4 linked regions of the Homo sapiens genome follow. The protein of the gene in region 1 purifies or fractionates together with the protein of each later gene. This does not show direct contact. Each region holds a gene or a part of one and is shown in the gene's direction. Other genes may lie near its edges.

Evidence for each region.
Region 2: the proteins of HPD (region 1) and ASPSCR1 purify together in Homo sapiens (affinity purification with mass spectrometry; 2 studies listed by BioGRID and IntAct, with this or other methods). This does not show direct contact.
Region 3: the proteins of HPD (region 1) and PELI1 purify together in Homo sapiens (affinity purification with western blotting; one study listed by BioGRID). This does not show direct contact.
Region 4: the proteins of HPD (region 1) and ARFGEF2 purify together in Homo sapiens (affinity purification with mass spectrometry, with the first as the bait; one large-scale study listed by BioGRID). This does not show direct contact.

What each region holds. Positions count from the first base shown.
Region 1 is NC_000012.12:121,856,060-121,860,057, reverse strand, and holds the start of HPD (4-hydroxyphenylpyruvate dioxygenase), read left to right. Parts: upstream 1-1,198; 5' UTR 1,199-1,234; coding exon 1,235-1,237; intron 1,238-1,344; coding exon 1,345-1,371; intron 1,372-2,219; exon of another isoform or gene 2,220-2,238; coding exon 2,239-2,301; exon of another isoform or gene 2,302-2,439; intron 2,440-2,625; coding exon 2,626-2,730; intron 2,731-3,411; exon of another isoform or gene 3,412-3,432; coding exon 3,433-3,475; exon of another isoform or gene 3,476-3,651; coding exon 3,652-3,734; exon of another isoform or gene 3,735-3,805; intron 3,806-3,998. UniProt on the Homo sapiens protein: Catalyzes the conversion of 4-hydroxyphenylpyruvic acid to homogentisic acid, one of the steps in tyrosine catabolism.
Region 2 is NC_000017.11:82,012,129-82,015,628, forward strand, and holds part of ASPSCR1 (tether containing UBX domain for GLUT4), read left to right. Parts: intron 1-27; coding exon of another isoform or gene 28-102; coding exon 103-155; intron 156-2,946; coding exon of another isoform or gene 2,947-3,228; intron 3,229-3,500. UniProt on the Homo sapiens protein: Tethering protein that sequesters GLUT4-containing vesicles in the cytoplasm in the absence of insulin. Modulates the amount of GLUT4 that is available at the cell surface. Enhances VCP methylation catalyzed by VCPKMT.
Region 3 is NC_000002.12:64,095,921-64,099,420, reverse strand, and holds part of PELI1 (E3 ubiquitin-protein ligase pellino homolog 1), read left to right. Parts: intron 1-2,143; exon of another isoform or gene 2,144-2,359; intron 2,360-2,810; coding exon 2,811-3,008; intron 3,009-3,107; coding exon 3,108-3,296; intron 3,297-3,500. UniProt on the Homo sapiens protein: E3 ubiquitin ligase catalyzing the covalent attachment of ubiquitin moieties onto substrate proteins. Involved in the TLR and IL-1 signaling pathways via interaction with the complex containing IRAK kinases and TRAF6.
Region 4 is NC_000020.11:48,970,211-48,973,710, forward strand, and holds part of ARFGEF2 (brefeldin A-inhibited guanine nucleotide-exchange protein 2), read left to right. Parts: intron 1-909; coding exon 910-1,144; intron 1,145-2,115; coding exon 2,116-2,215; intron 2,216-2,934; coding exon 2,935-3,074; intron 3,075-3,500. UniProt on the Homo sapiens protein: Promotes guanine-nucleotide exchange on ARF1 and ARF3 and to a lower extent on ARF5 and ARF6. Promotes the activation of ARF1/ARF5/ARF6 through replacement of GDP with GTP. Involved in the regulation of Golgi vesicular transport.

The sequences.
Region 1 (3,998 bases):
GTCCCCTGAGTAGCTGGGACTACAGACGTGCACCACCGTGCCCAGCTAATGTTTGTATTTTTAGTAGAGATGAGGTTTTACCATGTTGCCAGGCTGGTCTCAAACTCCTGGCCTCAAGTGATCCTCCCTCCTTGGCCTCCCAAAGTGCTGGGATTACAGGCGTGAGCCACCACCCCCGGCCCCCAGTTGGAAATTTAGACTTAAGGAGCTGAGGTGGACACTGGGAGCACACTGGGCAGGCCCAGGACAGGCAGAATAAGGGGGTGGGACCACCTTGCCTGCCTCCTGAATGGCCCAGAAAATAGAGAAAAGGAGGGAGAAGTGGTCTGCACTGGTGCAATGAGATCCAACTTCAGAATCAAACAGGCCAGAGTTTGGGGCTCTGCTCTTACCAGTTCCATGACCTGGGAGACATGTGTTCACCTCTCCAGGCCTCAGTTTCCCCATCTGATGGGGATATCAATATCTCCCATTTGTATAGAGGGCAATCTAGCAATTTAAAGTGTGGGTCCTGGAGTTAGAATAGCCCGGTTCATGTTCCAGTTCTTCCCTGCCGCTTGCTGACCTCATGGCCTAGGAATGTTCTCTGTCCCAATGAATTATAACCAACACTGAGAGTGTCCTGTGTGCCAGGTCCTGTTCCAAAGAGCGTGCTTATCTCCTTTAATCCCCACCACACTATTCTCATTCCTGTTTTACAAATGAGGCTCAAAGGGATATGGTGATTTTCCCAAGTCACACTGTATGTAACAGAGCCAGGATGCAAACCTTCTCCTGCCGTGCCTCTCAGAGCTATGGAATACAACGCTGTGACGCAAACAGGACTTTGGGGCCAGTCTCCAAATGCCCCCTCAAATTTCCTCTAGGCAAGAGTTCTGGAGCCGCCACTGCACTCCAGCCGGCCTTGGCTTCTGAGCTTTGGATTCTGGGCAGTAATGGTCACATTCCCAGCGTCCTGGAAAAGCTTGCCCTTGGCTTCTGGCCCTGACTCTGCCTCCCACTGACTAGTGGACGTCACTGCCCCTCTCTGGGCCTGGCAACACCATCCTGTTCAATGAGGCTGCGGCTGGATCAGAGGTCCCCAGGCCTGGAACCTTCCAGGGCTGGGCTCAGCTCCCCACCCCATCCCCCAGGTAGGCCAGGAGGCCTGGGCGGGACCTGCTTGGGGTTAAATACTCCGGCCCAGCACTCCCCAGGCCTCTAGTCCCAGTAGGAGGTTTGACTAAGATCAATCATGGTAAGTGCCATGGCCATCTCCCCTTGGGTGGGACATCTTCAGTAACGCTTCCAGAAGCACCTTGTGTTGGAACCTCCAAGTCTCACTGTCCTTCTTTTTCTCCTTAGACGACTTACAGTGACAAAGGGGCAAAGGTAAGCAGGCGAAATGTGGGAAATGTAGGGGCCTGAGTCTAGAAGGGGGTCGGAGTGCAGGGAGACTGGGGTTTCAGCAGAGAGCAGAAGAGGAAGGACTGGAGTGGATACATGACGTGCATGCCTGCACACTCAGCTTTACCCCCGGGGCTCCCCGAGACTGAGCTGGACTCAACCTCACCCTCACAACAAACTTGTATCCTGGCCGGGCATGGTGGCTCATGCCTGTAATCCCAGTGCTTTGGGAGGCCAAGGCAGGCAAATACTTGAGGTCAGGAGTTCGAGACCAGCCTGGTCAACATGAGGAAACCCCGTCTCTACTAAAAATACGAAAATTAGCCGGGCATGGTAGCGCACCCCTGTAATCCCAGCTACTCAGGAGGCTAAGGTGGGGGAGATCACTTGAACCCTAGGATCGCTTGAACCTGGGAGGCGGAAGTTGCAGTGAGCCAAGATTGCACCACTGCACTCCACTCCAGCCTGGGCAATAGAGCAAAACTCCATCTCAGAAACAAAAACCAAAACAAAACCTGTACCCCTTCTCAAATGCCTGCCAATCTTTTAATCCCATCTGGAAGTTCTTTCTAAGGTCTAACTTAAATCCATATTGCTGCAACATAAGTCTATTTCCCTGTGTGAAACCTTGGCAGGCCTCCTGAGGGGGTTTCCCCATCCAAGACACCCAGGAGCTCAACTTCCACATGAGAAACCTCTTTTGAGGCTTGGCAAGGCTGCATGGGGTTCCGCTGCTCCTAAGTTCTGTGGTTGAGGCTGGAATAAGGAGGGTGGCTAGGGGACATCACTCCACCCGCACTTTTCTAGACTCACTTTCAGGGACTCAACCTCACCTCTTCTCTCCTTCTGCAGCCTGAGAGAGGCCGATTCCTCCACTTCCACTCTGTGACCTTCTGGGTTGGCAACGCCAAGCAGGTAGAAGCCGGGGCAAGGTGCTGGAGTGAGCAGACGGCAGGGCAGAGGGCTGCCTGACAAGGGCAGGCCTCCAGCAGGGTCTGTGATTGGCCCTTGGGAGGGAGGATCAGGCCAGGGGTGGGCCAGATACTCTGAATCCTAATTACACCAGCGGGAAAGTTATCTGTCAGCAAAATGTGCAGGCAGCAGTCTATCTTCCCAGGAGGGTCTCTGCCCCTGAGGCAATAGGGCAGGCAGGCTGAGGGGGGCCAGGGGCTCTCTTGCGGAAGTCCCCCATGCTGGCCCCTTGACCCTCATGAACCCTGCTGCAACCCTGTGATTCAGGCCACGTCATTCTACTGCAGCAAGATGGGCTTTGAACCTCTAGCCTACAGGGGCCTGGAGACCGGTTCCCGGGAGGTGGTCAGCCATGTAATCAAACAAGGGAAGGTGAGTCACCACCCCCAGGACAGCCCCCAACCCCTGCCTGGCCAACATGGTGAAACCCCATCTCTATTAAAAATAGAAAAATTAGCTGGGCATGATGGTGGGCACCTGTAATCCCAGCTACTCAGGAGGCTGAGGCAGGCACATCGCTTGAACCCGGGAGGCAGAGGTTGCAGTGAGCCAACGTCGTGCCACTGCACTCCAGCCTGGGCGACAGAGCAAGACTCCATCTCAACAAAAAAAAACAAAAAACAACAAAAAACCCCAACAACAACAACAAAAACATATAATTCAGCTCCCACCGACCCCTCCGCTGGCATCTTTGTACAGCCATGCAACACGGCCCTTCCTAGTTTCGTTTCCTCCTCAGCCTGGCCCAACACTGACCCCACAGGTGCTCAGAAAACCTGGGATATCAGAGGAGAGGAATTTTAAGCAGTGCCCTGACCGATGGGGTCCCTGGAGTTCTCTCCCCGAGGGAGACCTGACCTAGCAGTTCCTCTGAGGATCCAGAGGGGGTCTGGCTGAAAGCCCCATCCCTCAGGACCAGTGTGGGAAACTAAGGCAGAGAAGGAGCTAGAACCCAGGTCCAGGAGTTCTTGTGCTCCATCAGGGGTGTTTCGGGTCGGCAGGGAGGGGCCGATGGGTGCACCTCCCCATGCCCCCCTGAGCCACTAGCCTCACCTCCTTCTCCTCCTATCTTAGATTGTGTTTGTCCTCTCCTCAGCGCTCAACCCCTGGAACAAAGGTGAGGTGCCCGGGGAGGGTGGACGCATGGCTCTGTGGGTGGGATCTGGGTTCTGGGAGGGTGGACGCATGGCTCCGTGGGTGGGCTCTGGGTTCAGGGCCTGGATGGAGACTAAAAGCCAGGTGAGGGGACCTAGACTCCAGACTCCAGTGCCATCCTCTCCCTGCCGGCCACAGAGATGGGCGATCACCTGGTGAAACACGGTGACGGAGTGAAGGACATTGCGTTCGAGGTGGAAGATTGTGACTACATCGTGCAGGTAAGAAAGCACCTGGGTGGACTGAGAGAGGAAGGCCTCCGTCTGCCATGGGGACCCCATCAGTCAGGGCTGGAAGGACACTGCTGCATCACAGTGACAAGCCCAGATGCCACATCACAGTGACAAGCTCAGATGCTGCATCACAGTGACAAGCCCAGATGCTGCATCACAGTGACAAGCCCAGATGCTGGTGTGACACACACCTGGGCTCCGGGGGTGCCCTGCCTTCCCCCGTGTCCTCTCTCTCACTGAGCCTCAGTTTCC
Region 2 (3,500 bases), on another chromosome or scaffold:
CACTTGAGGCGTCACCCCCATCTGCAGGCCTGTCTTCCTTCGGGCGCATGGATGGGCGAGGTCCACGGTGCTTCCTAACACGTAGGTGCCTTCTCTCCTCAGTCATCACCCCTCCAAAAACAGTCCTGGACGACCACACGCAGACCCTCTTTCAGGTACCTGAGGGCCTCCCTGGGGTGCTGCGGGGCGGGGCCCTCCAGGGAGGGCAGGACGAGAGCGTGAGGCCTCGGGCAGGAAGGAGGGGCCTGGCAGGCGCTGGGGCAGGATAATAAAGCCTTTGAGAGCCGGTGGGTTCCGAGGGGGCCGTGCGCCTCTGAAGTTGCTTCTGACACGGCTTTCCGGCCTCCTCTGCTTCCTGCCTGGCCCCGGGTGGGAAAGGACCTGCTAGGCGGCCTGCCTGAACTGAGGCCGCTTGGAGGTCTCGGCCCCCCTGGGCTGCTGTGCTGGGGCCAAGGCGGCAGCAGTCCCTGCCCAGGGGTCTGGGTGAGGAAGGGCCCGGCAGGCCTCGGAGCAGGGCTCAGGGAGCCCCAGAGGGACCAGGCCCTCAGCTGGAGGCGGCCGCCTTGGGCTTCAGCTGCCCCTTCCCCCTGCCCGGCCTCTCCCGCTGGCCCCCCGGTCCCTGCTAGGAACGCCCTGGTGCCCATAGCTGTCCGCTGCTTCTGTGGGTCCCTGCCACCTCCCTGAGGGCTCCTGAGGGTGGGGCCAGGGTGAGGGTGCCGGGTTCCCAGCCCTGCTGGGCCGCCCTCCAGAGCCAGAAGCAATGAATGTCCTGTCCTTGGCCTGTGGGAGAGCTGCCTGGGGCCTTCCGAAGCCCTCTGGCCTAATGGTTTCCTCTTCAAAGCCTCTTCAGATATTTTAATTAGCCACAGAGGCGGGTTTTTTTTTAAGTGGCCACAGGCCTCTACAGAGGCCTGGGTTGGAGGTGAGAAGCTTGCTCACTGCCTGGGGCTGCAGCCGCTTACTGAGCTGGGGCAAGAAGGCTGGCAGCTGCCAGGGGTGATCAGGAGCAGGACTGAGCGGGATTCCCTGCAGCGGAGGCAGGGGAGGGGTGAGACAGTCCCCTCTCAGCCCCCGAGCTGCCGGGCGGACTCCGGGCCTCCTTCCTCCGTCTCCATCCCCTCCCTTGCTGGCCAGCCAGTTGATAAACATTGAATTTGGAAGATGCCTTGGGATGGAGGAGGACCAGTGCCCAGGCCTGCAGCCCACCCTCCCGCTGGGAGGCCCCTGAGAGCACTGGGGTGCTGCTGCCCTGTTTCTGGGGACGCTTGGCTTCCCTACCAGCCACCGTCTCCTGCCCTCCATCAGCTCGGCTCTAGCCTCGGGGCCTCTCGGGGTGGTGTCCCCGGTGACGTGCCTGCCTGCCTGCCTGCCGTCAGAGAGCTGGCGGGGCTGAGGGAAGGAAGCCTGCCTCCCTGGCAGGCAAGCAGGCGGCGGGCGCGGAAGCACCAGCTTTCACGTCTCTGGCAGAGCCCCACTCCGGCTGCCTGCTGCCTGGGGGATGTCCAGGGGCCGGCCCCCGGCTTCCGAGAGGGACAGCGTGCGTGGGTGTGGGGGCTCCGGTAGCCCGGCAGCCCTCTGTGGCCCTGGCCCAGGAGAGTGCAGGTTTTCTGGGAGGGCTGGGAGGAGGCGGCCAGGAGTGAGGACAGGGAATTGTGAGCAGTGTGGGGGCACCACTGTGGGGAACAAAGCCCCCCGCCCCTGCCTGAAACCTGCGTCCTGGCCCTGGGCATCAGGGCTGGCCCTGCCCTGGTGTCCTCACACAGTCACTTCTGTGTGCGGTCCGCGTCCTCAGGTCATGAGGAAGGTCACCCTGGGCTAGGCCCACCTTTGATGTCACGGTCACCTCACTTATCTCTTCAAAGGCTCTGCTGTTTGGGCTTCCTTCCATTGGCTTTGGCAGGGCAAGCCTGGCTCCTAACACCCTCCGTTTGTTGGAGCTCTCAGGCTGCCTCTGGGGACCGTCTGCCAGGACACAGGCCACCCTTGCTGCCTGGTTCCCCACTCCCCAAGCCACTCACCTGGCAGGGCGTGACTGGCACTTCTGGCCTGAGTGCCTGCTGGGCGCCCGCCCCTAGCCAGTTCTGTCGTCCTTCCTTTCCACCCAGGACAGCCCCGTCCTGCACTGCCGTGTCGCCCACTGCCGGGGCCTCTCTGGGACCAACAGGCCCCCTTCCTTCCACCCACCAGGCCCTACCCCACCTGGACCCTCTGAAATGTTCCTCGTTGACAAATGGTCTTGCAGAAGGCAGGATGGCTCCTGCAGCCCCCACTCCCGCTCTGTGGGTGGATGCCCCGTCTCTCCCTGCCCAGGCACCGTGGTGCCTTCTCTCTCCCGGGCACCGTGGTGCCACCTCCCTCCCAGACACCATGATGCTGCCTCCCTCCCGGGCTCTGTGGTGCCATCTCCCTGCCGAGGCACTGTGGTGCCGCCTTCCTCCCGGGCACGGTGGTGCCGCCTCCCTCCCAGGCGCTGTGGTGCCGCCTCCCTCCCGGGCGTCTTGAGCTGCAAGGGCTCCTCTCTTGGCTTCGTTCCCCGGAGGGTGGTGCTGTTCTCGTTGGAGGGGGCGGCCAGGCGCTGGGCCACGTGTGCATGCAGCCCCTACAGAGTTGCTGCCCCGTGGGGGTTGACGTGGGCCTCCTTTCGGAAGCTCTTCCTGGCAACACTGAGTGGGGCAAGGGGTTGGCAGCAGAGAGGCGGCTGGATTTGGGGCCCCAGTGTCCTGGGCGGCAGCTAGGGAGGGGCCGGCTCCAGGCCCTCAGGCTGTGTCAGGGCAGGGCGGGCACCCCCACTTCTCCCTGTCAGCCGAGGGAGCCAGGCAGGGGCAGCCTGAGACATCCTGGGACAGTGCTGGTGGGGAGAGGCCCCTCAGCCTGTGCCTCCCTCAAAGGCCCTTCCCGGGCCCTGCTCTGGCTGGGGGGACGGTGTGACCCACTTTCCCTTTCCAGCCCCAGCTTGGTGACCGGGTGGCTCCATTCACCCTGGGTCCCTCGCTGAAACGGTGCCTGGGACCAGAGCAGAGAACACGCTTGCCAGTGGTAGGAGATGGAGGCGACGTGGACTCTGGGAGGCTTCTTTTTTGGGGTCCATCCAGAGGCCGAGCCTCTCCAAGCACTGGTCAGCCTCCATGCCACCCAGTCTGCCGACCCTCCTCTCCACCATCCCCTCGTCCGAGCAGTGGCGATCCCTCCCGAGTCAAGGCTGGGCACAAGCACGTGGGGACAGGCCGGGTAGGCTGCCTGGCTCAGTGCTCCCTGCACAGAGGCGCAGACAGGGAGCCCAGGTGCCCCAGGCCTGGCTGCCAAGCCTACTTCCCTCTCCTGGTGTTCCCGAGTCCTGCCCGCCCCTTTCTGTGCGTCCCGTGGGGCAGTGCTGGTTGGGGGTCCTGGCCTGTGGGGGCTATGATGAGAACCAGGTGCCTCTCTGCATCGGTGGCCTCTGAGGGAGCCCTCTCGCCCGGCAGCAGGTGGGATGCAGATGGGGCTGGCCAGGGCTCCTGTGC
Region 3 (3,500 bases), on another chromosome or scaffold:
CCAAGAAAAACCGAACACAAAGCTTTAGGATGATTTTTCACATTTTGTTTCACTGACAAGCAGTGAAAATGAATGAGCTTAGCTTTTTTTTAAAATCAAGATGCTACTAGGCCTGTAGTCTCAGTTACTCAGGGGGCTGAGGTGGGAGGATAGCTTGAGGCCAGCCTGGGCAACATAGTGAGACTTCGTCTCTTTAATAAAATATAGATAAATATATATGTGTGTGTGTGTGTGTGTGTGTGTGTGTGTGTGTGTATCTCCAAGATATTTGGTCACAGGCTAGAATTTTAGCTTCAGAAAGTACGTTATATTTATTTGTTTACCGCTTATCTTTTGTAGATGAGGTTAACTGAAATCTTGTGAGTTAAAGATGATAGAGTTACTTGGGGGCAAAACTGAAATTAAACCAGGCATCCTGAATTCTGAAACAATGTCTTCACCATCTAATGAAGGCCCTTGAATAAGTTTTAACAGTTTGGGTTTTGTCTTTTTCATAAAGTAGAGAATTTTCCCCAGTATCATAAACTGATTATGCCCTTTCTACAGGTATTATACCTTTGGAAAATCCAAACATTTCTGCATCAAAAAGACTGTGATGTATCAGAAACTACCTTGATAAACTAGCCAGTCTTTGAGGAATTGTACTGGAAACATTCTAGGATTGTCTACCCTGTAAACTGAACAAGAACATTTATTGTTCAAGTCATCAGATATTCCAACTCCAACTCTATGCCTTGTTTGTCACTATGAAGTACATAAGGGAGACATTACAAGCTGATTACATGCCTAGGTGCTGTACTGACCCTGTAAATCTTAAGCACATTGATTGTGTTGAAGAAGGATGGAGAAAAGACTTTACACTGGTGCCTTTTCATGTAGATCTTTTTATCAGGTTAAGTAGGATTTTTGCCAGCAACCGGTAGAAAAGCATTCTAGCAAAAGAGATGGCAAAGAAGCAAAGAAGTAGTACACAGTGTGGTGAAAGATTGACGAATAAGCTGTTGTAGCTTGTATACACAAATAGCAGGAAATTCGGCTGGATTGGTAGATGGGAGGCAAATCTTGAGTCAGTTTCTAACTATTATCAGAAATAATAAACTACAAATTTTGGATAAGCTATAAGGAACCATTGAGTTTTCTCATGAGGGTAAGGGAGAGTAACAAAAGAGCTGTATTTTTAATGCTAATAATAGCAGGGGAAGAATTATTAACAATCATATTTTGGCATCTGATCACATTCATGGTGGTTTTTTTCTCTTTATAGATACTTAAGTTTCTTCCTTCTCATTGTCATTACAAATATTGCTTCAGTGTCTTAAATATTCTCTTCCAAGACCCAGTTGAAATGTCAGCTCTCTGGAACAGTCTCTTTCCAAATAAGTGCTACTTCTGTTGATTCTGAATATTAGTTCAATCCTTGGCCTATATCTTTTAGCTTTTAAAGAGCCTTTTTATTTGGGGGAATATTTTTTGTTTCAAAGATCTGAGGCCATTTAAGGTATCTTTATTTTTAAGAATAAAGAAAAGGAATATCCAATCTTATATTTGTTAACTAGTTTCCCTCTAAAACTATCCAATCTAAATAAAAAGACTTTATACTTGACAGTTGGACAAAAACACTAAAGAGGTTTATCTGAAAGTGTGCCGATATGAGGAACTTGAGGCTAAAATATGTAAAGAATGACTTTTAAGAGTCTTTATCTTTGTAGAGGGTCAGTATTTTTTCTCAGTACCCACATTCTTCAATTTTATGGTACTACTTTATAACAAATACATTCATGAACTGATAATTTCCAAATGTTTGCTTTAAAGCCCCGTGACACTTGTCACTTTTGTCATCTCCCCATTGATTTCCTTTTTTCTTTCAACTTTCAAAATGAAATTAACTTATTTACTAGCTAGTACCTCTGAAGATATTTTTAAATCTCTGACACCTCACTCATCCAGAACTCTTATCTGGGAACCTTGTCTCTCTGAAATATCCCTAAGAACCAGGAAGAGTATATATATAAAATAAATGCCACAAAGTTGATGTAGTGAAATTCCTTTTCTATTCTCCCTAGAGGATCCCTTAGGCTCTCACCAGAACCTTTTGAAATACTTTTCTCTGAAATAGGTTATTTGATTTCTCAACCCATAACAGAGTAAGAGTAGCCAGTTAAAAGAGGGGCTTGTTGCTGGAAACAAGCATGACCAAAAACAAGGAGTGATAGCTGACAACCTGACAGAAAAGAAACAAGAAAATATATGAAGTATACATAAGACCTCAAAGCAAGGCTGTGTAAGCCCTTGACATAAGGACCAGCAGCCTTGTATACCTCTTGTAGCACCTGAAGACATCACTGCATTTCAGCTTAACGTAAGTGGTATTTATAGTGTAATGTTCTGCAGTCATCCTAAAAGATTTACTTATATATGTTCACTATATTCTGTTAAATAAGGTAGAATATCTCTTTAAATATCTCTAAAGAGAAAAAAACTACATGATACACATATTTCCATCCAAAAGGGTTAAAATTAAAATCTGCAGCCATCTAGAAATCTCAGCCGTTCCTGAATTCTTCATTCCCTAAGGGTTTCGTATATTATTGTAAGTTCTCATTTAATTCCATGCTCTAAGTGATTACTTCATCAGAGACAGTCTGACTGATTAGTTTTCAAGAGTATAGATGCCCCCAGCGTTAAGTATGGTAAACTTCAACTTTAGAAATTTCAGAGACCTAATGTTCTCTCCTTATTGTGCCCTTCTTGAATGGATTTTCCACTGTGCTCTTTGAATGGGTTTATAGGTATTTTTTTTTTTCCCTCAGATTGGCCGGTCGACTGAAAGCCCCATTGATTTTGTAGTAACTGACACGGTTCCTGGAAGTCAAAGTAATTCTGATACACAGTCAGTACAAAGCACTATATCAAGATTTGCCTGCAGAATCATATGTGAACGGAATCCTCCCTTTACAGCACGGATTTATGCTGCAGGATTTGACTCATCAAAAAACATCTTTCTTGGGGTAAAAAGCTTTTTTTCTAAATGATGCTTTCTTTTATACTAGCTTTCATTCCAAGTTACAAGTTACAAGTTGGAAGCTCACTGCTATTATTTCTACTAGGAGAAGGCTGCCAAATGGAAGACATCAGATGGACAGATGGATGGCTTGACCACTAATGGTGTTCTTGTGATGCATCCACGCAATGGGTTCACAGAAGACTCCAAGCCTGGAATATGGAGAGAAATATCGGTGTGTGGAAATGTATTTAGCCTACGTGAAACCAGATCGGCTCAGCAGAGAGGAAAAATGGTAAATACTGAATGGTATTTTCTTAATTAGCTACAATAAACACATAGGATGAGTAGAACTGAATGCATTACATACATTCCAGAAAACTCTTAAATCTATTGCCAACACAGAATACTAAGTCTATCAAACACTGACTACCAAATTCTATACTAGAGGACAGTCTCTTTAATATTTCGTTTAGTAGCCGGGCGCGGTGGCTCACAC
Region 4 (3,500 bases), on another chromosome or scaffold:
AAGCTGAGGCAAGAGAATCGCTTGAACCCAGGAGGCAGAGGTTGCAGTGAGCTGAGATCGTGTCACTGAACTCTAGCCTGGGCAACAGAGCAACAATAAATTTTAAAAAATAAAAATAGGCCGGGCGCGGTAGCTCACGCCTGTAATCCCAGCACTTTGGGAGGCCGAGGCGGGCGGATCATGAGGTCAAGAGATCGAGACCATCCTGGCCAACATGGTGAAACCCCATCTCTACTAAAAATACAAAAAATTAGCCGGGCATGGTGGCAGGCGCCTGTAATCCCAGCTACTCTGGAGGCTGAGGCAGGAGAATCGCTTGAACCCAGGAGACGGAGGTTGCAGTGAGCCGAGATTTGTGCCATTGCACTCCAGCCTGGACAAAAAGAGCAAAACTCCGTCTCAAAAAAATAAATAAATAAATAAAATAAAATAAAAATAAGTGTTAAGAAAATAGTTCATGAAAATGTACCATTTCTTACCATACCTGAACTCCGGCATGGGCAGTGGGGAGGGAGGGCTGTGAGGTAGGTGGATAAAGAGCGCCATCTTCATGGTGTGTGAAACAGAGTGAGCCAGGTGTCTCAGCCTCCCACAAGTGATGTAAAGTCATTGATTCTTGCAGTACAGTTGCAGAACTCGCTCTCCAGAATCAGTTGACACTTTGCTCCTGCTGTATTCTCTACTTTGTGATGGAAAGAGACAAATAGGAGTTGGCAGCTCTTGTTCTCAAAGGGCCTGCGATTCCAGAAGGACCCAACTCATGCCATCTGCCCTCATTCTCCTGACATTTAGGTGCTATTAATTCTTTAAAATTCTACTCATTGGTAAAGGAGCAAGGCCTTCTCAAGAAACATACTGTTTGACATTTTTTCTTTTAGCACTGTTGTGGTTTTTCATTTTCTTTGCCAGATCCCATGAGCTGCGTTCCAAGGTGGTTTCCCTGCAGCTGCTCCTCTCTGTGTTGCAAAATGCTGGCCCCGTATTCAGGACTCACGAGATGTTCATCAATGCAATCAAGCAATATCTCTGTGTGGCCTTGTCCAAAAACGGCGTCTCTTCAGTGCCTGATGTCTTTGAGCTCTCTCTTGCCATTTTTCTTACTCTTCTTTCAAACTTTAAAATGCACTTGAAAATGCAGATAGAGGTACGGATTCCAAAGTTTTTTCATTTCATTATTTACTATTATTATTAGTCATTAATTATAATACTCAATATTGAGAATGCTGCTAATATTACACTAAGCATTAGGAAAATGGTTCATGAAAATGTTTCATATCTTACCATCCTGGAACTCAGAAGTGGGCAGGGGCAGGGAGGGTAAATGGCATATTCATCGGCTGGCACCCCAGTAAATCAGAACTTTTTGAATGAGTAAGAGAATATCTTTTTATAAAAAGTTACTGCCCCCAGCCTGGGCGCCATGGCTCACGCCTGTAATCCCAGCACTTTGGGAAGCTGAGGCGGGCGGATCATGAGGTCAGGAGATCGAGACCATCCTGGCTAACATGGTGAAACCCCGTCTCTACTAAAAATACAAAAAATTAGCCAGGCGTGGTGGCAGGCGCCTGTAGTCCCAGCTACTCGGGAGGCTGAGGCAGGAGAATGGCATGAACCCGGGAGGCGGAGCTTGCAGTGAGCCAAGATTGCACCACTGCACTCCAGCCTGGGCAACAGGGCGAGACTCCATCTCAAAAAAAAAAAGTTACTGCCCCCGGATCTTATGTGCCTTTCATTTTAACCAATATGGTCTGTCTGCTGGGCTCAGCCCCCTAAACATATCTGTTTGGTCTGTAAATTGTTTGAAATCATTTAGATTAGTCGCCAAATTGAGAAATCCTATTTTACATGAAAATCCAGATTTCTGGTTTCTCTCCAAAAAGTCACAGTATGGGTCCTGCATTTCCACTTGGCAGCTCCCCAGTGGGCCCCACCCTGCCAGCCGTCCCCACCAAGGCCAGGGTCCCGTTGCTGCCCAGCCAGGTGGGCACTCCACTCTTCTTCTGCCCAGGGTGCTTTACTTACTGCACGACTGGGTTGGCTGCTGAAGACTTTGGAGGTTTTGAGCCCTGGTTGAAACTGTTAATTAGTGTCCTCCTTTGTCTTTATGTCATATAGGTCTTTTTCAAAGAGATTTTCCTGAACATTTTAGAAACATCAACAAGTTCTTTTGAGCACAGGTGGATGGTCATTCAGACTCTGACGAGGATCTGTGCAGGTATTTCCACCTGGGGACACTCATCCACTGGACTTCTGATGCTTTAATTTGCCACAGCTCAGATTAAGACTTCTAACCCCTCCTTTTAGAGTTTTAAAGGATTGGCAATAAAAGGCTAATTCTAACCTAGTCCTGCCCCACCTCTCCTTTTTTAGAGGATGACCAACTTAGGCTGGTTTGCCAAGGACTTCCTGGTTTTAGCACTAAAAGTCTCATGTCCCAGAAACCCCCTAATCTCGTCAAACTGGGACACTTGGTTACGTTACCTACAAGCTGAGTACTGTTAATCACAGGACCTAAGATACTGGTGCTGCCAATTTTTGATTGGGTGCTACGGTAAATGTGGATTTACCTTACACTATACAATTGTGTGGCCTCAAAGTAAGCATCCTGCTTGTCTGGCATCAAATGTAATTTTGTAAGAGTGACACAACTTTAAGAGGTGGGTCAGGCAATTGTTAACCCCTTCCTTGATGAGAAAATTGAGGCTTGGATGGGTGGAATGAACTGCCTGAGATTTCAATTTGCTCAGAAGCAGGCCTAAAAACAACCTCCTGTCTTCCAGCTTCCTAGTACTTCCAACATGTGTTTCCTGAGTGAGATGTGGCCACCGGAGTCTGTAGTTCACTGGGGAAATTTGTTGGCAAACATCTTGTTTGATAAGAAAACCTAACTGCTATTTGATCAGAATTTCTGATACTTGTATGTTATTTTCCAAGATGCCCAGTGTGTTGTGGATATTTATGTCAACTACGACTGTGATTTAAATGCTGCTAACATTTTTGAGCGCCTTGTAAATGATTTATCCAAAATTGCTCAGGGAAGAAGTGGACATGAGCTGGGAATGACACCTCTGCAGGTAAAAACACTGTGGACACTCAATTATATTAAAGTTTATTCATTCCAATAAACATTTATTGAGTGCCACCACATGCCAGGCACTGTCCTTGATACAGCAGTGAACAAAACAGGAATGCATATTCACACACTTCCTGCCATCATGAAACGACATTAAAGAAGTCAGTTCAGATGATCATAGGGGCTGCAGAGAAAAATAAAGCAGGGACGGCAGAGAGGAAGTGCTGAAGGTGGGGTGCTGTAATTCTTAATGGGGCCATTAGGGTAGTATCCCTTAGAAGGTGACCTTTGAGCTGAGACCCATAGGAAGCAAATTCATTCTCAGTCACCCTTCCAAAGATAGCGTGGAAAACAGGATCCCAGTCTGCAATAGGGGCAAAGGAGATTGGCTAGTAGCAGAATACCTCATTAGAGCACCTACAAAGAA